3 separate regions of the Homo sapiens genome follow, and all the other regions are linked to region 2. The links come from fine-mapping of genetic effects on gene expression. A gene starts in region 2. Each other region holds a variant in brackets. All regions are shown on one strand. Distances are from middle to middle.

The links. PIP is the estimated chance that this variant, and not a neighbour inherited with it, causes the effect.
Region 1: its variant is the best candidate, but not a certain one, in a credible set for the expression of NSUN2 in putamen (GTEx, PIP 0.75).
Region 3: its variant is the best candidate, but not a certain one, in a credible set for the expression of NSUN2 in whole blood (INTERVAL, PIP 0.59).

Annotation. Positions count from the first base shown.
Region 1 is chr5:6,596,240-6,604,420 of GRCh38, reverse strand. NSUN2 (NOP2/Sun RNA methyltransferase 2) reads left to right here. Exons shown (of 19, transcript NM_017755.6): 17 at 145-283; 18 at 1,921-1,960; 19 at 4,189-5,182. The coding sequence ends at 4,495. Among named protein-coding and RNA genes, the nearest start is that of LINC01018, 18 kb to the right of the region's middle. The variant C/A (reference allele first, on the strand shown) is at 4,470.
Region 2 is chr5:6,629,592-6,637,767 of GRCh38, reverse strand. It overlaps NSUN2 (NOP2/Sun RNA methyltransferase 2), which reads left to right and starts at 4,724. Exons shown (of 19, transcript NM_017755.6): 1 at 4,724-4,884; 2 at 5,012-5,169; 3 at 5,791-5,895. The coding sequence starts at 4,789. SRD5A1 (steroid 5 alpha-reductase 1) reads right to left here and starts at 4,328. Exons shown (of 5, transcript NM_001047.4): 1 at 3,899-4,328. The coding sequence starts at 4,191. RefSeq lists enhancers at 3,605-4,116, 4,117-4,628 and a silencer at 4,092-4,481.
Region 3 is chr5:6,662,726-6,670,887 of GRCh38, reverse strand. It overlaps SRD5A1 (steroid 5 alpha-reductase 1), which reads right to left. Exons shown (of 5, transcript NM_001047.4): 4 at 7,922-8,072; 5 at 1-2,686. The coding sequence ends at 2,620. Among named protein-coding and RNA genes, the nearest start is that of SRD5A1, 33 kb to the right of the region's middle. The variant C/T (reference allele first, on the strand shown) is at 4,079.

The DNA.
Region 1 (8,181 bases), 33 kb after region 2:
TGGGTTCCACACCTGTCCAAGGGGAGGGGCCATAGTGAGGGCTCGACCACCATAGCCGCTAAGAGCATAGCCCCTGAGAGCAGGCTGTTGTCGTTCATGAATGACATCATGGTATCTGTTCTCTCATTCTCTTTATTCACACAGGGAATATATACATTGTATCCATTTATTAACTCAAGAATTATTACTGTATCAATGGAAGATGTTAAGATACTGTTGACCCAGGAAAATCCCTTTTTTAGAAAACTCAGCAGTGAGACCTACAGTCAAGCAAAGGACCTGGGTGAGTAGTTGGAAATGCATAGAGACATAACTTGTATTCCCTTTATAAGGCCAGCAAAAATGCAGGTGGTGTGCGTTGGGGCATATTTATCAATCATAGTTTTCAGTTTATTTATGGCTACATCAATTTCCAGAGGGTTCTGTAGATCCCTGATTGACAGTTCAGAATGCTAAGGGTCAAAGGCATCTTGGGGTTGGTGTACTTCCCCAGGCTCTGGTGGTGCCCTGCTGCTGCCCAGCAGCCTGTGGTGTGTCTGTGTGGCGTGCAGGGCTGGCCTTTGCTCACCTTGCTGGGCCAGAGAGTCCGGGGAGAGGAGGGGTCAGCCTGTGAGCAGCCCTGGCAAGCCTCCCAGCCAGAGCTCTTGACCCACTTGCCTGTCAGCAGGTCGGGGGTGGGTGGAAGCAGGTCTCTGTGCATGAGCAAATTTGTTTTTTTCTTTTTTTGTTTTGAGACAGAGTCTCGCTCTGTCACCCAGGCTGGAGTACAGTGGCACGATCTCGGCTCACTGCAAGCTCCGCCTCCCAGGTTCAGCCATTCTCCTGCCCCAGCCTCCCAAGTAGCTGGGACTACAAGCACCCGCCACCACGCCCAGCTAATTTTTTGTATTTTTAGTAGAGACGGGGTTTCACCGTGTTAGCCAGGATGGTCTCAATCTCCTGACCTTGTGATCTGCCTGTCTCAGCCTCCCAAAGTGCTGGGATTACAGGCGTGGGCCACCGCGCCCAGCCAGTAAATTTGTTTTTTAAGGTACACAGCCTCACGAGACTGGCTAACATGCAGATTTTAATCACCTGTGTTAGAGCAAAATAAGAGTCTTGCCAGCAGTTCTGACTTTTCTGCTAGCCAGCTGGAGTAGATTATTGGTCATATTGCTGCTTTTATATTTCATCAACTTCCACTTCAGATCACTCCAGTGACGTTTTCCCCTAAGCATAAAAATCATTTCTCCAAGCTGTTCTAATTTTCTTTCTGTTGTCTTCATTCTTGTTTATTTTTTTAAATAACTTGCTGTTTAATATTTTTGGCTCAATTTGATCAAAAGTACGTGAATCACTTCTTGCAGTTACGTTTCTTACTTGCGTTTAAAACTTACTCGTGTGGTTCCTTTGGGATATAAAACATGCTCTGTGGAGTCTGTCTCCCACTGCCGTCTCCAGGCAAGAACCACAATTTAAAGTAGAGATTCTTGTAAAGGATAAAGGACCTGTTTATACTGGTTTTCTTTTAATCCTGCACTTAGATGATTGCAGTATTGTTTTAGACAATTTTTATGTATTTCATGCCATTCTGGGAGTTGGTGTTATAGTTTATTTAATTTTGAATTTTGAAGAATTAACCAGCAGTTAATCCCCAGCCTCCTTGCTTCTCAGAGTGGATTGTCAGGTGACATCCCTTGAAGTCCCTGAATGGCTTTTGCCTGGGTCCTCTTCCAGATCGTCCCTACTGCGTCATTTGGACTTGGTTCATGTATCCAGACGGCCTCTTTTCACCATCTAGATCCTTGAAGCCAAGAATGTAGATTATTTGTTGTTTTCTTTCTTCAGAATACTTAACACATCACTAGGTGCAGAAATGTGCTCAGCGCATGCATCCACTACCTGGAAAACCTGGCAAATGTGTGTCTGTTTCTTTTCCAGCAAAGGGAAGCATCGTGCTGAAGTATGAACCAGATTCTGCGTAAGTCAGTACACGCCCTGCCCTTAGACACACACGCCTTGTCATTAGCTACAGTGTTCTCGTTGGTGAGGAAAGTGACTTGGGAAGGTGGGAACCTTCTTCAGGCCTTTTGTGATTGTTCCTCAGAAGTAGCCTTGTGAAAACTTCAGAACCAAAATATTCCTGTAGGTCATCATGAAGATGCTGTTTCATAGAACACTCAGCTCAGGCTAAGTGAATTTTTACTTACAGAGAATAAAATGCATAGTACTTATTTTTTAAGCATTAGAAACCAATGAAAATTTCTGTCTTGTACAGAGTAAGTGTGAAGATTGGACAGTTGAGTGAGGTTCCGTTCTTTTGTCCTCATGGCTGGTTCAGCCATGTGTGTTGCTGACATGTTACTGCATCAGGAGTGCTAGGGCCGGAGCATGGGATTTGCTCACGCTTGCACTCACGGTCCCCACGGGACCACTGCTCCACGCTGCTTGCATGTATTCACGCTGCATCCTTGTGGGGGGCCTTGGGGGAGCAGGTGCTGGTTTTGGCAGCACTTGCCAGAGGAGGAAGCCGGGACAGAAAGTTAGGTGGCTTGCCCAGAGCTCCTCAGCTCACGAGTGGCAGAATTCGGATCTCACCTGCAACAGCTCCGTCTTGGTGACATGCAACACCATTTCTGAGAGGAGGAAACAGAATGGGGTCCACGGCTGACTGGGATTTGGGGGAGTGAATAGGTAGAACCACTGTACAGATTTCTTTGGGAAGTTAGTGTTGGACCAGGGATCCAGTGCTAACTTGAAGGAACCACCAAAGCGCAGATCCTGAGGCAGGTGCAAGCTGGGGGTCGGGGCGGGCCCAGCCAAGTAGGGAAGGAGGAGGGATAGGTAAGAGGTTGGCAGGGAGGCCGAGGGGCCACATGTCCTCAGGGTTCAGGCTGTCCGGCTGCCATGTGGAGAGAGGACAGGTGGGGGCTGAGGTGGGAGGGGCAGGAACTTGGTGAGGGAACAACAGATGGATGGGCTGGAGAGGTCAGCGAGGCCGAGCGCATGAGCACCCTGGGGACCTGCTGGAGGCGGATGGTGTCTGGATGGTGAACGGGCAGGAGCATCTAGTGATTGATGGCTTCTGGGTGTTTTTAACGAGAGTTTGAACAAAGACTCAGAAATGGTTTTTAAAATAACAGTCCCATGTGGCCCACATAGAAAATATTGGGATATTTTAAGGTGTGGATTCACTTTTCCATATTTAAACACTTGTTTCTACTTGGTGAAATACACAGGTGACAGGTCAACTTCAGGAATAATGGTTTTTTTTTTTTAAGAAGATGGGAGTTGGGAATTTCTTATATTTTCCTCTCACTTCTTAAAACCACCTTTGTGCCCCTGCTTTACATTAGGAAAAATGGAAAGGTGATTAAACACGGCCGTTAGGAGCCTAAAATCTAGGTCAGAGTCCCGTATGAAAGAAATCAGATAAGTTGAGAGAGGGCGTGTGCAGGTTGGAAATGGTGGCGTCCATCTCTGCTGGGGCGTCGATGCCTCCTGGCTGGACAGGTGGAGCCTGGAAGGTAGGGAGGCTCGGAGCATGTTCAGAGAGGCAGGGATGTTTTTGACTGTGGGTAACACTGCATGCTGGGAACGGAAATGAGCACTGTGTGCCCAGCAGGGCTCAGACTGCCATGTGGGGTCCCTGGAGAAGAAATCACGCTAACACTGAGTATCAAAAGGATGAGTGGTCCTGGGTTCTGCTCTGGCAGCCCTGCTAAGGGCAGAGTCTCCCGGTGGTCCTGGGTCCTGCTCTGACGCCCTGCTAAGGGCAGAGTCTCCCAGCCTCTCAGGAGCTTCAGTCCACTTAGGAAACTTGAGGTGAGCTGCAGGGAGCCTGTGGAGAAACGCTTCTCATTTAGTGGGGTGAGGTGACACGGGGTGGCGGGGACAGTAAGTTAAGTTTGAGAAGGAAGTATGTAGAAAGTGTATGTGAAATCTGTAGATTTGGGGCCTCTACTCCATTGTGAACTTAAAGAGGCAGGGCGAAAGCGAGGGTGAGAATTTTACTCAGGACATGAAGAAGGAAGTCCTTTGAGAAAACCTACCCCTCGGATCCAGATGAAATGTCCTCCCAGTAGTTTTGGGGGTTTTGTGGGTATGGGTTTTCTGTGGTTTTCTTTTTTAAGCAGTTGCATATTACATCTCATTCGATTTAGTTATGGGAATGTTTAATGTTCTACATGAAGCCACTTTCACTTGTAGGAATCCAGACGCTCTGCAGTGTCCCATCGTCTTATGCGGATGGCGGGGAAAGGCCTCCATTCGAACTTTTGTGCCCAAGAATGAACGGCTTCATTATCTCAGGATGATGGGGCTGGAGGTATTGGGAGAAAAGAAGAAGGAAGGGGTTATCCTCACAAATGAGAGTGCAGCCAGCACCGGACAGCCAGACAATGACGTGACTGAGGGACAGAGAGCAGGAGAGCCCAACAGCCCAGATGCAGAAGAGGCCAACAGTCCAGACGTGACAGCAGGCTGTGACC[C/A]GGCGGGGGTCCATCCACCCCGGTGAGCAGGCCCAAGGCAGCGGGGGCCCACACCCCTCACACGCAAAACTGGCTTCTTCTGGTCACTGGTGTCTGAAACCAAATCCAGAGCAGCCTGTGGCCTGTAAAGCATATATTTCTAATGACTGCAGACTGGTGGGATCATAGGAGCCTTCTGAATGACCAGGACTGCTTTCTTTGGAGCTGATGAAAATGTACTCTTTTAGCGTGTTAGAAATCACTTGTTTTATTTTGTTTCTTTGGCCAAGCTGGGTCTAGTGTTTCTTTTGCTGGGAATAGACTTTCAAAAGTTGTACTTCTATCAAGAAACAAAACTGCCCTTGCAGAAATTTCAGGTCTTTTGTTAAGCCTGTATTGGTCTTAAGGTGCAGTATTTTTTAAATTATTATTTATAGAAAGAATCTATAAATTCTTGGGGAAGTGTGTTATAAGCTTTAATAATTACATTGAGCTGCACCTCAGTGGTGTGTCATTAACATGCAGTGGGGTTAATATCTGAGGCCTCAGATGACTTTGTGCCTTTTGGAATAAAGGGTAAAATAAACTCTCCCAGAGTAAGAGCTGTATCGTGAATTGTCATACTAATTATTGAGGGGGACTTATGTGCTTTTATTGAATGGAGTGCTTTACAATTTTTATTTTTAAATGGGGTTGGGATCCTTGGAATATTTCAATAAAATTGATAAAATATATACATGTGTGATTCCTGTTTTTGCTCTTAGGAAGCAGAAAGAACAAACTTACTTTTGGCTAAATGGCAGTGTTAGAATACATCCTTATTTTCTCTAGTGAAAGCGGTTTTACTGTGAAGGCTGCTGTCTTCCTGTCTACCTCATTTTGTGTGTTGGTCTGTACAAACACCGACCACACACTGCCTTTGGTGGATTTGTCTCTGGAGTCTCCACTGTGGAATACTTTCAAGCTCTGTGGCGTGAAGAGCTCCTATTTCTCTTTCGCCCACATTCTCCACTGAACATTTCTCTACATTTGCATTTGCATCCTCTGGTGTGCTTGCATGTCACTCATTGTTTTCTGAACCCTTTGACAGTAAGTTACAGACGTGTTCCGTTACCCCCTTGCTCCTGTGGTGTTTCCTGGAAACAGAGGCCCTCTTTACAGCTCGCAGCATAGGCGTCAGAAACGTGGATGCAGGTCACCCTCAAACCAGCAAGCTCGCTCCAGCGGCCCAGTAATGTCCTTTGCAGTCACAATGTCCAATTTTGTCTGGGGTGACACCAGTTGCCTTTGGCTGTCTTGTCTCGAGTTCACTACCGTCAGAAACAGTTCCCAGTCTGTCTTTTATGATTGAGACAGTCTTGCAGGGTACCGGTCAGGTAGTCTGAATGTGCTTCAGTTTTGGTTGGTCTGAAGTGTCCCTGTGATGTGTGCGTTTTTGACAGGAGGACCACAGAGGTGGTGCTGTGTTCTCGCTGCGTCATGCCAGGAGGCTGACGATGTTGGGTTTTCTCTTTATAGTGGTGGTGAAGTTTGTTTTATTATTAGTAACATGGTATCTGTCTGCCAAGTTTCTCCACTGAAAAATTTGTAAGTATTGTGCAAGGAGACATTTCAAGACTATATTCCTCTCTCTCATCAAACTTTTAACTGCCAGCTTTAGTATTTCTTGATAATTTGCCTGAGCCAGTTTTTACTGTGACAGCTACAAATTGTTTTCCCCCATTTTTCATCACTTCTACATTATTAGTTCTCATTACATAGAATAAGCACTCCTCTGTCCTTTGTTTGCTTCTTGATTCATTTTCTGTCAGTACGGATTCAAGGATTCTGTTTTATTCAGTTATTTATTTATTATTACTGTCATTTATTTTGGTTCTCAGATTGTCCCGGCATTGGCCAGTGGGAACTGTTTCCAGTCAGTTTCAGTGCTTTATCCTACTTGCTGGTCCAGGCCCTGGACTGGGGACACCGGGCACGGTGGGGACCTGGGGGCCACACAGGTGTGTGGGGATGGGTTTAGTGCTCTCAGCATCTTTCTCCTCCCTCAGCCCCCAGAACTTTTAGGGCAGTGAGATCTTGGTCTACAGAAGGGGATTGTTGAAAGATGCTTCTCTGGGGAAACTGTCTAGCTTCAAAGAAGCCGTAAAGATAGCGGCCTTAGGGTTCCTGGGAAGTAGCCCACTCTTATCACCCTGTAGCGACGCTCAAAGCGAGGAGTCACTCCCACACTCAGCACTGCCTGTGAGCACCTTGCCTTGTCAGAATAGGCAACCCCGGGTAACCAGACACAGAGCAGCCTCCAGTGTTGGATGGATGTAGGGGTCAAAGACAACAGAATAGCAGCTAGCAAGTACAGACCACACAGGGAGAAGAAAACTTAAAAATTGATAAATAAGGTGGACAGTTATTATGGTGTATGGATAAGCCTGAGGAAACATTCAAGAGAAGACTGCTCCTAACATGGAGGATTTTCTTTCTCTAACTTTAATCAGCATTTTGGTAAGGGTCTTCCGATTCCCGAAGAGTGCACGGCAGAAGAAAAGACATCAGCTGAAGGAGTTTTCGCTTCCACCCAGCAGGGTTGTCTCTGATGAGGGCCTCTCTGAAGTAGCCAGCCCCATAGGTTGGGAGTAGTGGTTGCCTTCTGGTGGGGGTGCTTAAATGGGAGAAAAACTTTTTACTGAAAACTCTTTGTTTCCTTTGAACTTTGACGTACCTGTTGAGTAGATGAATAAAATAAATTTCCTAAAAAGAAGGACAACTTTGAGCCAGCGAGTCCACTTCACAGGCCCACAGATGAGTCAAATGTGTCTGCAGAGTCATTTGATGCAATGTTGTTAATAGCAGAAACCTGGAAGCCCTCAGCATCAATGACGAGGCACTGGGACACCAATGGTGCAGAGCCCCCACGTGGACACTGGCCAGCAAAGGGGCTGAAGCAGCTCGCTGTGTCCTGGAGTCCAGTGACCACCAAGAAAGAAACGCAAGGTGTAGAGAAGAATGTGCATTCTGCTGCCATTGTGTACAGGGGGAAAATACACAGGCTTGGAGACATGTGCTTTTGAATTTATGTAAAGTAACTGGAAGGATACAGAAGAAATTGACAGTTTTGGTTGCCTCTGAGGAGGGCATCTATGTGGGCTGGCCAGTGTTAACAAGGAGATTTTAAATACAGATGCTCTTCAGCTTACGATGGGATTATGTCTTGATAAGCCCAGCATTAGTTGAAAATGTCCTACATCAAAGTGCATTAAGTACACCTAGACTACCTTCAGCATGCTCAGAACACTTCCATGCTACAGTTGGGAAAATCATCTGGCAACACAGTCCCCTGCAGAGGGTTGGTTGTTTACCCTTGTGATCGTATGGCTGTTGGAGCAACTCGGCCATTGCCCCACATCACAAGGATATCGACTACAGATCACCAGCCCAGGTAGAGATCAAAATCCAAAGTACAGTTTCTATTGAATATGTGTTGCTTTCCTACCATCATAAAGCCAAAAAATCATGCGTTGAGAATTGTAAGTCAGGGGCCCTCTCTATTAAAACATGGTAATCTTAGCTCTATTCAGTTAACAAGTGAGTAGTGAATAAGTGCTGCGAAAGAGATATCTGTATCTCTGTGAGCCCAGAGGACAAAATTATTAATGGGCATCCGCAAGTCTGGGATTGTGTATACACGCGCTTCACCCTAGCAAATGGCACTCCATTCCCAGAGCACTTCTCAGGAAGT
Region 2 (8,176 bases):
CATCTGACTGTGCACTCTGGGCACCATTTGGCCACCAGTCCTAACAAAGGCAGTCACTGAGGACTCCCGTGGCAAGCGGCACCTCCTGCTCAGGCTCCTCGGAGTTATTTGTTAAATGAATGTGCAATGCAGAGACAATCCCCTGACTAATTCACTGCTGATAGTGGGGAAGGAAAATCCATGAGCAAAGCAGCCTGGGTTCAGGGAATACTGAACAAAGCTGCGTGGGTGGAGAGAAAGAGCATGAGGTCAGGCACAGTCTGCAAAGCCCCCCAGCGACTCCGACACAGTTCAGAGCTAATGCCCTTGACTCCGGGAGACTTTTGCTGTGTCTAGCAAAGCAGGATTTACAAACGAGGGTAGAGAAAGACCAGTGGGGAAGAGTGAAGAAGCCCAGCAAGAACCAACACAGATGATGAGGACCTGGGTTACAGCACCAGCCCAGGGAGACAAAATAGAGGGCCAGGGAACAGGGTAAATGCAGCGGGGCGTCACTGTAATCACAGAGCAGAGGGCAAAGGTGATAGGAGTAGGCACAGGCTTCGGAAGGCCCTAGGGAGGCCTGCCAGGAGGCTGGGGAAGGCACCTGCCTCCAGGGGCTGCCACCATGCCAGACGCCACTCCATGCTCTACATGACTAGGGCCCCAGTGAGACGCTGCCGCCCCTGCACCCAAGAACCCAAGCGCCCTGGGATCAGAAGGAGGCTTCAGCACAGATAGGAGGCAGGCAATCCTTGTCGCTACCGTGAGCCCTAAAGATGTTCCTGAAAATGTCCTTTGCCCTCCTGGGGGAACTGGTCAGGACCACAGCTCGTCCTGCGTCATGGCTATCCCCCCACCCCAGCCCTGTCCCCTTCCAGGCAGCCTGTCCTTCCCTCCCTGGTGTTTGTGTCCAAAAGACCCCATAGATTCTCCATAACCTGTCTTTTACTCCTCAACTCAAAGGGAATGTCTTGTCACTATATCCCCAGCACAACGCCAGGTCCAGAAATCCTCACTGGCACGTAAGTCTTCCTTAAGTGTTTGCTGAATAAATACATGAAAGCGCACCATTCCCTCTATCCCTTCCTTCACCTTTCCTCCCTCCTTGACCTGACTGTCCTGTACTCATTGTTCCCAGAACAGTCAGTTGCTCTGGGAAGAGCTGTAGCTCTGCTGCTGCCTTCAGGCCTCATGGACTGTGGAAAGTCCCTGGACCTGGCTCTGGTCCTTGCCACTCCCAAAAGAGGCTCTAGTTCCCCAAGGCAGGGCCCAACCTCACTCCAGCGAAACCTCACAGGTCAGCACAGGGCCTGTGTGCACACCTGTCAGGTTGTGTAAGGTGGTACTGGCTCTGCCTGGCCAGCGCCTCCTCAGGCTCACTTTTCTCCTGCCTTTCATAAGAGTCATCCTTGTACCCACAGCCTCCTCTCACCGGGTGTGGTGTTCTCCGTTCTCTGCAGGGCCCTGTGCAAATAAAGGGCTCCAGGACGCTTCCAGGGGCTGCTGGGATGGTTTGTGTTCAGTGCTAAATGCTGTTTCCACTCTGGTTCTCTTCCAAGTGCTCATGACTTAGATCAAGTGACTGTTTAATAAATTAGTTGCTTGGGTAGAATGGAAAATGTTTATCTTTTCTATTTGGAAAATGTAAATGTCCCCAAACCACATAGACTATGTACACAATAACATGTACAACTCAAAAAAAAAATAGCCTAGCAATTTAAAAAAAAAACTATACCTGACCCAGCCAATCCTCTTGGAGCAGCTTTTAAACTATTAGTATAGGAAGTGGGCTTTCATCCCAGCAGCTCCTTATCCAACAGCCTCAGGGAAGACAGCAGCATGCTGTGCCTCCGTGTTCTACTCTGTATGAATGAGCTGTTCAAGTTCTATCATTCAAGGTGACTCTGGCCCTTTGGGAGGCTGCATTCATTTTTCTGCTTGAGTGAATGTAGGTACAATGAAACATGATGTCTCAAGTTAAAAAGCTTCCACTTGGGATGTCAGGCAAAACTTTGTCAAGTGTTCCCTTGATTTCCAACACCACAGTTTTGCTGGCACATGAGGCTGGCAGCAGTGCACATGAATGACACACAGAGTACATGTCTGGATGTGCATTCACAGCAATGCAAAATAGTGCTAGGTATTGTGTACTGAGCACGCAGATGCGCCAGCACCATGCAAGCATTTTAGGGAGTTGCCTTTGCTCTAAATTCATGTGATCCCACAGGGGGGTTCCATCACCATGCCCATTCTACAGGTGGGGAAACCTTGCTGCGGGGCAGCTTAGTAACTCATCCAGGGTCATGACTGATGGGACTAGGATAGCACCGAATACTCTGACCTGAGATTGCTTTTAGCCATAAAGAAACAGACATACAGCTTCTGGTATATTTATGGAAAAGTATATACAAACAGCAAAGTCTGACTAATATTCAAATTGTAGCAATGGTTGATCCCATTCCAAAAAAAAAATAAAGCAATGGTAAAGAGTTTCAGGCACACAGTACTCACTAAGCCTCTGATGAATGTTGACTTGCCCTTGTTTAAAGTGCAAGTCATCAAAGCACACTGAGGACACAGACTGCACCAGTTACAGGGTAAGGTGCTGGTTTTCAGGGAACTCAGGTACCAAAAACTGTGCTGGGTACAACACTGGTTCCAAGTAGTGGAGCTGTGTACTTTCTCTTCGCTGGAATGCATGACACCAGGAGAAAGAAGAGAGGCTTATAAACACACACTGAGTTCTTCCTGTCTCTCTGGGAAGTGAGTGTTTTAAGGTGGGACCCCAAATCAGAAAGGTTGGGTAAACTGCCCATAGTCACACAGCCAGTGAGTTCAACTTCCTTGGGTGTAGAGACATCCTTTTTAACTGTGAAGCTTTCCAGAGCCTGAATGAAAACGTTTAAAATTTAATTTTGAACTTTCGACCTGTCGTTTGCTTTGGCTGTGTAAAAGCCAAAAGATACGACCTGGAGAGAACCCCAACTTATTAGAAGGCTTGAAGATTTCAGACACAGCCAGTTTTCAAATATTCAAAAAAACAAAAACCTTGAAAGATTTAGAAGTCATCTTTAAGACTTCGTTTGTTTAAGGTTTAAGGTTGCTGGCTTTCCACCCCCACAATCCTGGGGTCCCTTGCATAAGGTGGACATGAAAGTCTCTGAAAGTGATCAAGCCTATAAGGAGAAACTGCTAGGCAGTTTTAGGACAGCAGGTTTCCAGTTGCAGCTGATCACTTGGCTGGGAGAAAACAGCTCCACCATCACCAAAGATACCAAAAGGGGAACCGGCAGAAAGGAGTAGAAACCAGTGGCCCTCAAGACCGACCATCAGCATTAGACTCTAGGCCAACCCCCTCCCCCCCGCCCCCACAGTCGTGATCTAAGGGAACAAAATCTAGTCTTCATTTTTATTTTACATTTTTACTTTTTAACTCTTTATTTTTATATATTTAATTTTGAGACAGAGTCTCGCTCTGTCACCCAGGCTGGAGGGCAGTGGCGAGATCTCGGCTCACTGTAACCTCCGCCTCTCGGGTTCAAGCGATTCTTCCATCTCAGACTCCCGAGTAACTGGGATCACAGACAGGCGCCACCGCGCCCGGCTAAGGAAACCAAACCTAGGACCACTGAGTGGCTCTTTCCAGATCAGTTTCATCATGTTTTTTTCCATCACTCCCTTCCAGTCCTTTGTTTCCCGCCCTTTCCAGACGAATCCCTTCTGGTTTCCAAACTCCCGGGGCCGGGGGACTCGGGGAAGGGCACCCGTGCAGATGGGGGACGCCCCGGGGGATCTGGCAGGGAGAGGGCATCTGGGTGGGGGAGGCTTCGGGGAGAGGGCACCGGGCAGTGAGGGGAGGGTCGGAGAGGACGCCGGGCCGGGAGTAGGGTAGGGGGCCGGGGGCCGGGGACGTTACCGATGCCCGTAGTGGACGAGGAACATGGCCAGGAGGATGCAGTTGGGCGCGCTGCGGAGACGCGGGGCGGACTCGCTGGCGTACTGGTAGAGCGGCAGGGCCAGCGAGGGCAGCTCCTGCACCACCCAGGCGGCCCGCGCCGGCACTCGGAGCCTGTGGCTGGGCAGCGCGTGGCGGCCGTACACTGAGTTCGTCTGACGATTGCGCGCGAAGACCGCGCAGCCCACGGCGCACTGCAGGTAGGCGAGCGCGGCCAGCAGGCGCTCCTCCGCCACCCCCGTCGCCGTTGCCATCGCCAGGGCTGGGCAGCGTGCTCCATGCCCCAGAGGCCGCGGCGGGCAACATATAGGGCGGCGGCGCGGGGGCAGGAGGGGCGGCTACCGGAGGGGCGGCTACCGGAGTCCCGCACTGCCGGGACTCTGCAGAAAGGGTTCTCAAGTCAGGCTTCTCCGGGGTAGCCGGGGCTGTGGGTGCGGCCCCGGGGGCGGGGCGAGCACTTGCGCGGGGAGGGACCTGCAAGCGCCCCACCCACGCCGGGGCCGCAGTAACCCCGCGCCGCTCTGCGCACGCGCGGCTTCAGGCTGTCCGCGGAGCTCCTTGAGCCCGCGTGGGAAACCTGGGCGCTTCGCGCGGAGACGCCTTTGTGGCTGCTTCCTGGAGCATTTTTTTCCCCTTAGAGCTGTTCGCTGTTTTCCCTGTCACGCCGCTTTTCTGAAAGACGGGTTGTGCGCTTTGGGCTTATTCCTGGACGGTCCCCAAAGGTCCCCGAAAGGACCAGGCCCGGACACGTGGGGCCTTGGTTTCCGGCCGGAAGTCCCGGGAGGTGTAGGGCTAGAGTTCTGGCCGTGGCGGGCCGGTTTCTGCGTGCTGCGTGCGCGGCCGCGTGGGCTATGGGGCGGCGGTCGCGGGGTCGGCGGCTCCAGCAACAGCAGCGGCCGGAGGACGCGGAGGATGGCGCCGAGGGTGGTGGAAAGCGCGGCGAGGCGGTAGGAGCCGGGACCCGGCGGGCGGGCCAGGGGCTCCTCCTGGGCTTCCCGGACCCCGAGGCCTGCGAGGCGGCGGCGAGGGGGCGGCTCCTTGGGCCTCGGGGTAGACGTCTCTTTCCTTCCTCAGGGCTGGGAAGGAGGCTACCCCGAGATCGTCAAGGAGAACAAGCTGTTCGAGCACTACTACCAGGAGCTCAAGATCGTGCCCGAGGGCGAGTGGGGCCAGTTCATGGACGCTCTCAGGGAGCCGCTCCCGGCCACTTTAAGAATTACTGGTTACAAAAGGTAGGGAGGCAGTGCCTGATTTTTTGGGAGTTGGGGCCAGGATGCTGGAGGTTAAAGGCGACGGTGTTTTCTTCGACAAGTGTTACAGTGCCAGAGAACCGTGGCGTTTCAGCGGTTTGGATTCAGGAAGCATTGAGGTGGGGAGCACAGGGTCCAATGAAATGGTCACGGAGGTATTGCAGGCGCAAGGTTAGAAGACGAAATGAAAATGAGATCTGAGGAAGATTCGGCTCCTGGGGAATCTTCCAGGAGGGAAGCTGAGGGTCTTACCTTTTGGAACGTAAGAGAATTTATAGAGAATGCATAAAACCCCTTGGTTCTCCCCTCCTCCGCGCCCCCCCTCCATCTTTGTAGTTACATCTTTCTAAATGAGTCGCAAGTAAAACTTAACGGTAGGATATGCTTAGGAGAGAAGGAATGCAGTGTTGCTCTTAGGGCTCAAACAGTGTGGATTGCTTAAATTTTGAAGGCATACAGTGTAAAAGTAGTGACTAAAGAATGTTTACTCTCCATGCAAAAGTTGGTTTTAGTTTTAAAACACTTGCAGTCTTAAATTTAAGAAGATACAATGTATTAACTTAGTTTTTTAGATCAGTTTGAAACTTCCTTATTTTTCAATAGCCACGCAAAAGAGATTCTCCATTGCTTAAAGAACAAATATTTTAAGGAATTGGAGGACCTGGAGGTGGACGGTCAGAAAGTTGAAGTTCCACAGCCACTGAGTTGGTAGGTACCACAGTGCTTCATGCCGAATATTTATTTGGGATATTAATCTCTATCACTTGAATTATATTTCTTGGTACTGCATTTGCTGTTAAAGAGCTTGGGTATACTTTGCAAACATCCTAATGTTCTAGTACCTGGTGCTTTTATCAACATTATATTGCTACGCAAGTTTTCATGCGATTTGCGATTTGCAGCTTTATGAGTCACTGATTTCAGCCAGCTCTTCCTAGTACATCCAGCCTCTTCCTTTATGTCACCACTTCCGCCAGCTCCCTTTTACAGCCCTTGTTTTCTCACATCAAAACTGTTGCAGAGTGGCTGCTTTGCCTTCAGAAAAAGGACAGACTTAGCTTGACAACAGTCTCCTGGTAGGTAGTCTCTTAGTGTTTTCCATTACAGACAGGTTACCACTGTCTGCTGTCAGGTTGTCTCCTGGTACTTCGCAGTACAGACTGCACCAGCCAATGTAGCATTTCCGAGTCTCAGCACCCAAGCGTGCTACTACTCTGGGAGCTACCTCTTTCTTGACCTGTCCTGGAGGTGCCTTCTGGGTTACCTATTCCTCATGGCTCGGTTCTAGTCTCAGTTGTATGAAGGTGATCCCTTGTGCTGATAGCATCTTGTAAAGATGCTTGGAGAACTCCGGAGGCGCCAGTCCTTCAGTTAACTTACATAAGTGGGAAAGTCGTTATTATTAACTTTGAGGTATTGAGTTCTCAGAAAAGTAATGCACGAAAAGGTGAATTAAGCCGTTTTTTGTTTGTCTGTTTGTTTGTTTGGAGACGGAGTCTCACTCTGTCGCCCAGGCTGGAGAGCAGTGGCACCATCTTGGCTCACTGCAAGCTCCACCTCCCTGGTTCACGCCATTCTCTTGTCTCAGCCTCCCGAGTAGCTGGGACTACAGGTGCCCGCCACCACGCCCGGCCAATTTTTTTGTATTTTTAGTGGAGACGGGTTTTTACCTTGCTAGCCAGGATGGTCTCATCTCCTGACCTCATGATCCGCCCACCTCGGCCTCCCAAAGTGCTGGGATTACAGGCGTGAGCCACTGCGCCCTGCCAAATTAAGCGTTTTGCATCAACTTTTGAGGTTTTGACTATTCCAGTACGTAGTGTTATCTTTCCTTTTTGGATAACCTTTAGTGTTCGCAAATCAAGGTCAGATTTTCATTAATCATGGGGTACAGATTTGCTTGTTTTTCTTTCATTGGCTATTTGGATTTTCATTGTCCCTATCACAGATAAGCATATACATTCACAATGAATGCTGACTGGCCAAACATTAAGTCAGTATTCAACCAGTATCAAGACCGAATATCACCATCATGGAATGTGTTGCTGGGATATAGGAATAAATATGACCAACATCGTGAAACCCTATCTCTACTAAAAATACAAAAATTAGACAGGCATGGTGGCACACGCCTGTAATCCCAGACACTAGGGAGGCTGAGGCATGAGAATCGCTTGAACCCAGGAGGTGGAGGTTGCAGTAAGCCAAGATCATGCCACTGCACTCCAGCCTGGGCCACAGAGCGAGACCATGTCTCAAAAAGGGAAAAAAGAATAGATATGCCACATCTTAGATTTTTAAAAGCTTGAAGGGTACAGTATAGGAAAATGATACGGGTGCTACGTTGCTGTTAGTGGTCACTAATTGTCCACTGTAGTGAGATCAGTGGAAAAGGTAGATGTTTTTCAGCCTCTAGTTATGGCATTGCTGAGATGAGGTAACCTTCACGAGATCAAGCTTTTCTTCCTCCTGGTAACTAGGTTGTAGACTTTGCTCAAGTCGTTTGGTTTGAAGATTTGATTGACGACACTGATTGTGTTGTACTTGAAGTAGAGGTCTGATACTGTAGTAGTCCATTTTCACACTGTTATAAGGACATACCTGAGTAATGTATAGATAAAGGAAATAGGCTTAATTGACTCACATTTCCACATCGCCGGGGAGGCCTCAGGAAGCTTAAAATCATGGCGGAAGATCTCTCTGCACAGGGTGGCAGGAGAGAGAATGAGTGCTGAGCAAAGGAAGAAGCCCCTAATAAACCATCAGATCTCCCCCTGAGAACGAACTCACTGTTGTGAGAACAACATGAGGGAAACGGCCCGGGGATTTAATTATCTCCACCTCGTCCTGCCCTTGACACGTGGGGAATATTACAATTCAAGGTGAAATTGGGGTGGGAACACAGAGCCAAACCATCTAAAATATTTTAAGAAGACAGGATTACGATTCTCCTCGGGCATGTTTGTATTTTTAGCAGTGATGCATGTAT
Region 3 (8,162 bases), 33 kb before region 2:
ATATATACAATGGAATACTACTCAGCCATAAAAAGGAATCAATTAGCAGTATTTGCAATGATCTGGTTGATCAATATCTTAAGAAAGGTGGTTAAGCTTTGGTTACAGCAATGGCCGATAGAGAAGATTATGGCTGTATCAGACACAAGTGAGGGTCCCTTCCCTTTTCCTTGCTTTTATTCTTGTTATTTTTTTCTACCTAACATTATTTTAGCTACTTACTTGTTTCTTACCTGTCACTCCACCTGGGCCAGGACTGTTTTTTCTACCCATCCGTCCTCAGCACCCACTGCTGTGCTTGATATACAGTAAGTGCTTGGCAAATGTTGTTGAATGCACAAATGCATGCACCGCTGGCCTTGGAGACTAAGGAGGAGATGGGTACAACTATTGTTCTCTGCCTCATTGGATTTTAGCTTTGGTCATGATAGCAGTTGGCTGTGGTCTTCCTACAGATAACAGCAGACAGGGTCTGGACGGAAGGAGAGAAATGGGCTTTTGGGTTCCAAGTTCTGTCAGTGTTGGGTGACTGAAGTCGTGCACAGAGGCCTCTCTGAGGGAGAAGCCATGGCCATGCCACCCCCTGGCTTCCCTGCAGCTTGAGGCAGGAGGTAACCAGCCATTATGGGGCAGGATCCCTATAGGCCAAAATGTGGAGACTTTATTTTTTTCCTGGGATGCCAACACCTAGTTCTCTGGTTTTCCCCACTTAGTTAATTTTTGTGTTAGGAAAGGCCACCTCCTCAGCCTACCTTCTCTTCCCCGGCAATGGGCACATGGCTCATTTCTGGGCTCTCTGTGCTCTCCCTGGAGAGTGGGGGTGCAGAGGACACTGCTTTCTGCTGCAGGCGCCATGTTTAGTTGGTCTCACTTTGAGATGCTCATTTCCCTCTGCCTTCTGTCAGCCCAGATGTGAGGACCCAGGGTCTCCGCAGGGTGTGCACTGTCATGGCCTCTCTGCTCTGCCACATCAGGCCCATCTCCACCCGTGCTGTGGTCCATCTGCAGTGGTGACTCTCTCTCACTCTCTTTATGGGGCCACTCCCCCACCTAAATTCCTTTGAGGTGATTTCAACTGGGGTCAGAATAGAGAGGGGAGAAGGAAAGGTGTATGTTCAGCTCATCAGATTTAACTGGAAGCTCTCAAGGCTACTTTAAAAATCATAAAAGCCATTCCCAATAAGCTTGTTTGTTTTAAAGGAAATCTCCTTTCCAAATCACTGTAGATAGTAAACAGAAGAAGTTGAAAAAACCAAATAAAAACAGGAAATATGATGAAAGAATGTTTCGATGTAACAATTAGTAAAAGAATTTGAGCTACCTTGTTAAATGGCAAAGTCTATTTATTATGTTGTTAAAGACAACTGAAACAAATGGCATTTAAAAACTCCAGATGAGATGATAAGGCAAAGCAATGCCAGATGAATTCATCAAGATAAAAAGCAGTATGGCAATGTTTTTATCAAAGTAGAATTCAAGTCATGAAGCATTCAACAGGAAGATTATTTTATATTGATAACAGGTACAGGCTATGAGGGGAAAGCTTTGCAAAGCAACAACAGCAAAACAGAAAGCAAAAACTATTAGAAGGAAGATTAGCTATGGAAGAAAAAGAAGGCTGTAGAGAATTTTAACAATTATTATGTTTCAATCAACAAAGAACAAACAGGATAAATCTTAAAAAGTGGTCTTGTTATTGTTACAGAAAGTGATCATTCTTTACACTACAAGGGAAAACTCAAAATCTACAAAAGAGAAATTTCACAGACAACAATCTCTACTATATCCATACGTGGGGAACAGAACAAAAAAACTAGGTCTAGACTAGAAGACAGAGAGAAACCATGTCAGACCAGAGCACATTGATGGCTCACGGTGAGTGACCCATGGCCTAAAGGTGCCTGTTTAGGGCCCAGGAGCCACTCACACAGGCAGAGCAGCTTACTCCGTATGAACCACCACCAGCACCCCTCCCTGCCCGGTGATGTCACCCGGTGGGCTGGGCTGGAACAAGTCCAGATGCCTTTGCCTCACCTTGGAAGGGCCACGAGGAGCTTCCTCCTCTATCCCCAAGTTCTCCACTTACACACAGCACCTGACACGAAGGTTGGCAAGTTTCCCCCGGGCCATGACTGCACAATGGCTACCCCCAGCCTCTGTGGCCTCCGAGAGAGGGCTCCTAGACAGATTCCAGCCCTATAGGGGGAGGGAAGCAACACTGCAGTTGACCTTGAAGAGATCACTGTAGGGGGCTATAGAAGGGATTGTGACATTTATTGTTCTGAAAATGCCATCAAAGACAGTTGTAAAGTCTAGTCTCATACACACTTGGCAAGACATAGCCAAAAGAGGTAAATTTGAAATTAGAAAAAATATCAGCAGTTATTACCCAGAGCTTGAAATTCTGACCTGTTACACAGTAGGATATTCAACCTCCATTTCAGCGTATTTAGGTACTTATTAGGTAGATTGCAAAATTACTAGAAAAAAAATTCCTAGAGGACATCTTGAAAATGATAAAGTAGCAGGAAAATTACAAAGATATAACTTATTTACAAAGTCCATAGAGAAGCGCCATTGGAAAGCTTCAAGTTGAAGATAATTTCATGAAAAACGCACTTAAAACAAAAATGGAATTATAATTTTTCTGAACTTTGGATACTCTTCAAATTTCCGGAGGTACCACCTAAGAAAAAAAAATTAAAAAAGGAAATAATTCTGTCGCTTAGACATTTAACCAATGCTAACAAAAGTGACAATATTTTTCATTACAAAAGAGTACTCAGTTTTTTAAATGTAGTAACAAAAACTTTGGCATTTCATACTTATAGTTTAATTTTGCCTATTATCATGAAGAATTAAATATATCTAATCATAAAGTGTGATTCAGAAGAAGTAGCCCATAGAATTCACCTTTCTATCTGGAAGGAAAATTACTGACATTTGATGAAAATACTGATCAGCACATTGCGGAGCTGTCTTTTCAGCCCCCGGGGAAAGCATGCAGGCTGGAGGAGGGGCAGGACCAAGTAGGTGCTTCCTGAATACCTGCTGGTGACTCCAGCAGTTTTCTCCAGCCTGCAGTTGGGAACTACTGGCCTAGCCCAGGGTGTGTAGAGTGGGCACCCAGCTGCATACCAGGAGGCTCATGAACGCTCTTAGTAAGGATTCGGTGAAATCTGGGGAAATGCAATATGGCATTGTCCACCATTCAGCCTTGTGCTCGAAACAAACATTATTTTCCGTTTTGATATAAATTGTATCAATGCAGGCGTGCTCATTTGTTTTGGGGATAATAGCCAGTTGGGAAAGGTGGCAACTAAGTGCATGGAGTAAAAATTAGAAATAATTTGACAAGATGGAGAAAGGGAGTTTCTATAAACACACACAGAAAGATTAAACAACAGACTAAAAATCATGATAGAAAGCAATTAGCTCATTGTTAATGTGGTAGAAACATATGAGGACGAGAAACTGAGAGGGAGTTGGCAAAACCCTGCTGGTCTTAGTTAAGTTTAACACCGGAATCCACAAATAGAGAATTCGAACATACTGGGCGGCCACGTTTACTTTTGTATGTTCTGTGTCCCCAAAAAGGCATGTAATAAGAACAATTCTAAGAAGTCGGTCAGGACTTCCGGATCAAGCGTCACTTCCCCTGGCATGAGGCCTCGAGACTGCAGCCTTTCCAGCTACGTGGCTCAGTGGTGGCGCATGGACCCACGAGTGCCCAACACACAACGTGGCCAAGCCTAACAGCTGGTGTCAAACCTGCGAAAGTGCATTGCAAACATGTTCGCTGGTTAGAGGCTGAAGGTGTTCACAGGCCTGCTGGGATCCAGGCCATCCAGCACTTGCAAGTGCTGAAGAGCTTCCCCATGGGCCAGCGGCACTGGCCGCCGCACAGTGACATAGCAGGTGAGCGCCTCTCTCCCAGAAACTGCCCGTGGGAAGATGGGCACCCTGGCCCGAAAAGGCAAGGGCAGAGTACATGACAGCAGGAGAGCCTGAAATGGGCAAACACGAGAGGGCAGGTGGGAGATGGGAAACACAGGACTGCCGCAGGATGCCGAGAAAA[C/T]GCGCCCCCCCACCAGGCTGGGCAGCAAGGCTGGGCTCCGTGACATCAGAAAGAACATGTGTGAGGTCAGGGTGTTCTCACACAATGAAGGGATGTTGGCTGAAGAGGTTAAGTGTATTTCACAGAAACCATTATATAGAAATAAAATATTTATTTTTAAATGATTAAATTTTTCTTACTCCTTAGAATACCTTTAAATTTTGCCCTTTAAGAGAATATTTGTTAGCAACCCAGCACAGTTGACTGTTTCTGACCTAGAAATCAATGCATTAACTATCAATGCAATCATTTATGAATTTAAATACTGATTATTATAGAAAGATTTCATTGAATACAATTTTGTTTTTAGAACGTTATAATCCAGTCAGGCGCGGTGGCTGACGCCTGTAATTCCAGTGCTTTGGGAGGCTGAGGCGGGCAAATCACGAGGTCAGGAGATCAAGACCATCCTGGCTGACACGGTGAAACCCCGTCTCTACTAAAAATACAAAAAAATTAGCCGGGCATGGTGGCGGGCACCTGTAGTCCCAGCTACTCAGGAGGCTGAGGCAGGAGAATGGCGTGAACCTGGGAGGCAGAGCTTGCAGTGAGCCGAGATCGCGCCACTGCACTCCAGCCTGGGCGACAGAGCGAGACTGTCTCAAAAAAAAAAAGAACATTATAAATGGAGTGCAAGGAATAGATCCTTGGCATGTTTTCTTTTGGAATACTTTTATTTGATGGCTTAATTAGTTGGGTTTATGAAAATATTTTTTAAAAAGGAGTTTTTATTTTATTCTCAGCTTGTAAGTCCTACATTTCTGAACATACTTCTGCAAAACTGAATTGATTAATTCTTCAGGGCTTAAAACTGGTTTCACACTGACACCAATTTAAACAGCAAATGAATGACAAAGAGCTCTTTCAACTCATGAACTCTTCTGCAAAGACTATCTTTGGGTTTTCATTAGCAAAGACTTTCATTTAGATAACTGAATTATTTATTTTCCATTTCTATATGTTTCATATTCAAATACTGAGAGGGGCTTTCCTGTTTCCTGATTTCATTTGAGAAAACATCTTTGCCACTGACTTGGTGTGCCCATGTTCAATCTTACTCTGATCCGTGTTTTTTTAAACGTCAGTGTTATCTCATTTGTTTCTTTTAATGAGAAATGAGCCATTACTCACTTCTTCACATCAAATATTAGGAATATAAAAGGATGGCATCTTCACCGGGAAGTGAGGCCCAGGCCAGGTGCAGTGCTGGGAGCAGCGGGCGCAGAGGGGAGGAAGTCAGATTGTAGAATGTATATTTAGAGAGATAACGTTGTATTTCAACCAAACCGGTGACAACAAAGTCATCTGGCGGAGGAGAAAACAGAGGGGTTCACCAATCATACTCCTGCCCTTACTTTCCCAGTCAATTTTAAATGGCTGGAAGGCTGGCGTATCAGTTCCCTGTGGCTGCTAGAACAAAGTTAACCACACACTGGGTGGCTTATAATAACGGCCACTGATTCTCTCCCAGTTCTGGATGCCAGGAGTTGGAAATCAAGGTGGCAGCAGGGCTACGCTCCCTCTGAAGGTTCAGGGAAGGTTCCAGTCCCATTTCCCCCAGCTCTGGTGGCACCACGTGTTCCTGGGTTCATGGCTGCATCGCCCCCGCCTCTGTGTCCATCTTCGCATGGCCTTCCCACTCTGTGTGATCACCTGGTGTACGTCTATCCACGTTTCCCCTTCTCATCTCAACTGATAACGTTCTCCAGTAAGGTCGCTTTCACAGGTGCCAGGGCTTAGGACTCTCATATGACCTTCTGGCAGACACAGTTCTCAGCACAGAAGGCCCATTCCTGGCCCACAGTGTTTTCTGCCATGCCTGGCATTGAGCCTCCTTCTCAAACCCTCTCTGCCTTCGGCACTCACTCAACTTTCCGCAGACCCCTCTGTTTTTCTCAGCAGCTCTGGGATTTAGGTAGGTCGTGGCTCTCTGATCTCGCTCTCTCCTCACTGTCTATGCGTGAAAATACCAGGCCACTGGCACGATGGAGTGTCTCGAAGAATGCGGGGCGCTGCTCTTAGAGCTCACATTTATGCTATCACTTCTTCAAGTATTAGACAAAGAGGCCAGCCACGTTGGCTCACGCCTCGAATCCTAGCACTTCAGGAGGCTGAGGTGTGAGGATTACTTGAGTCCAGGAGTTTAAGACCAGCTTGGGCAATATAGTGAGACCACAACTCTACAAAAAATATAAAAAATTAGCCAGGCCTGGTGGTGCATGCCTGTAATCCCAGCTACTTGGAAGGCTGAGGTGGGAAGATCACCTGAGCCTGGGAGGCAGAGGTGGCAGTGAGCTGAGATTGTGCCACTGCACTCCAGCCTGGGTGACAGAGTGAGATGCTGTCTTAAAAAAAAAATTAGACAAAGAGATACTTCAGATATGACCTTTCTTCTTCTTATCTCCAATAATCATCCTTTGCATCTGCAAACTCGTGGTGAGGCTGGGAAGTACACCTAGGTACTCTTCCCACTATACCATATCAATCTATTCTTCTTTTAGCTTTTTCTCTCTGTCCTTAGTCCCAAAAAAGATGATAAACTCCATGAAGTAGGACAGAGTTATACATTTTTGCACCTCGTAGCATCAGCAGCATTGGAGATTTCGATTAGATGTTTTGAGTGGATGAAGTGGGTGGCTCAGGGGACATAGTAAATGTGCATACCAGGCTGGCCGCTTGCTAAGCCCAGTCTCCATCATTTATTGTCAGGGACACGCGCCAATGTCAGGGCAGGTAAAGATCCCACGTTGCTCCTGAGATCTCTTCCCGTCAATGAGATGGGGCTCCTGGCTGGCCTCAGACTCTGCTCCCTGAACCTCAGTTTCCTCATCCATTGGATTAGAAAGATGTTCTCTAAATTCACTTCAGCCTTGACATCCTTCAATTTCTTTTCCTTTTTTCTTTTTTTTTTGAGACTGAGTCTCACTCTCTCAACCAGGCTGGAGTGCAGTGGTGCGATATCGGCTCACTGCAGCCTCCACCTCCCAGGTTCAAGGGATTCTCGTACCTCAGCCTCCCGAGTAGCTGGGATTACAGGCGCCCGCCACCACGCCTGACTAATTTTTGTATTTTTAGTAGAGACGGGATTTCACCATGTTGGCCAGGTGAGTCTTGAACTCCTGACCTCAAGTGATCCACCGGCCTTGGCCTCCCAAAGTGCTGGGATTACAGGCATGAGCCACCGCGCCCAGTCCCTTTGATTTCTTTATGAGTGTGTTGGTCAAATGGCTCGCAAGCCTTTTGGGGGATCAGATAAAAGCCAAGGACCCGGTCTCTGGAAAATGATGTCATTTTAGGGGGCATGCAGAGCTTCTGTAGCCCATTAAGGACCCCAGGTTCAGAGCCATGGCCTAAGCCACCACATAGCTGGAGAGCTCTTGTGTGTATGAGTTCTGCCAGTGTCGCTGGGCTCTGAGATTCACCTACCTCTTCAGGACTTCCTCAACCTGCAGCATTCGCAAGCTGGCCATTGGCTATTGCTCAGTCAGGGATCTGTTTTAATCAGTATTTCCCATTCAGAGCCCTGAATCCCCTGCTTGGTGTCTAACTTGACCACTGAATTCAGCACTGTCAATTCAGAGAGGCTAAGGACGTGGTATAGAGAACAACTGTGCTGATGTGGACCTGATTATTCCCTAGAGCTGGGTGATTCTACAGCTATTTGGTTTTGTACTTGTTTGGCCAAAGCACAGAATAAACTGGAATTCAGCGATTTAAATTAACACTTCAAAAATCTAGCCTGAAAAATGGTAATAATATAGTCAAAGAACAAATTACAAATGGTAAAAGTGTTTTAAAACTTACTCATGATGCTCTTTTGCTCTACCAGATAAAAAACAAAACGTGAAGAAAGCAAAAGCCGCGCCTTGGACAGACCAGCTGGCCAGGGCATAGCCACACCACTCCATGATTTCTCCAAAATAGTTGGCTGCAGTTACGTATTCAAATAAGCCTCCTAGAAGAAAACACAGACCAAAGTAGTGCATTTACTACAAAATGAAATACGGACTTCAGAGATGCTAGTGAATACTTACCTGGAGAACAT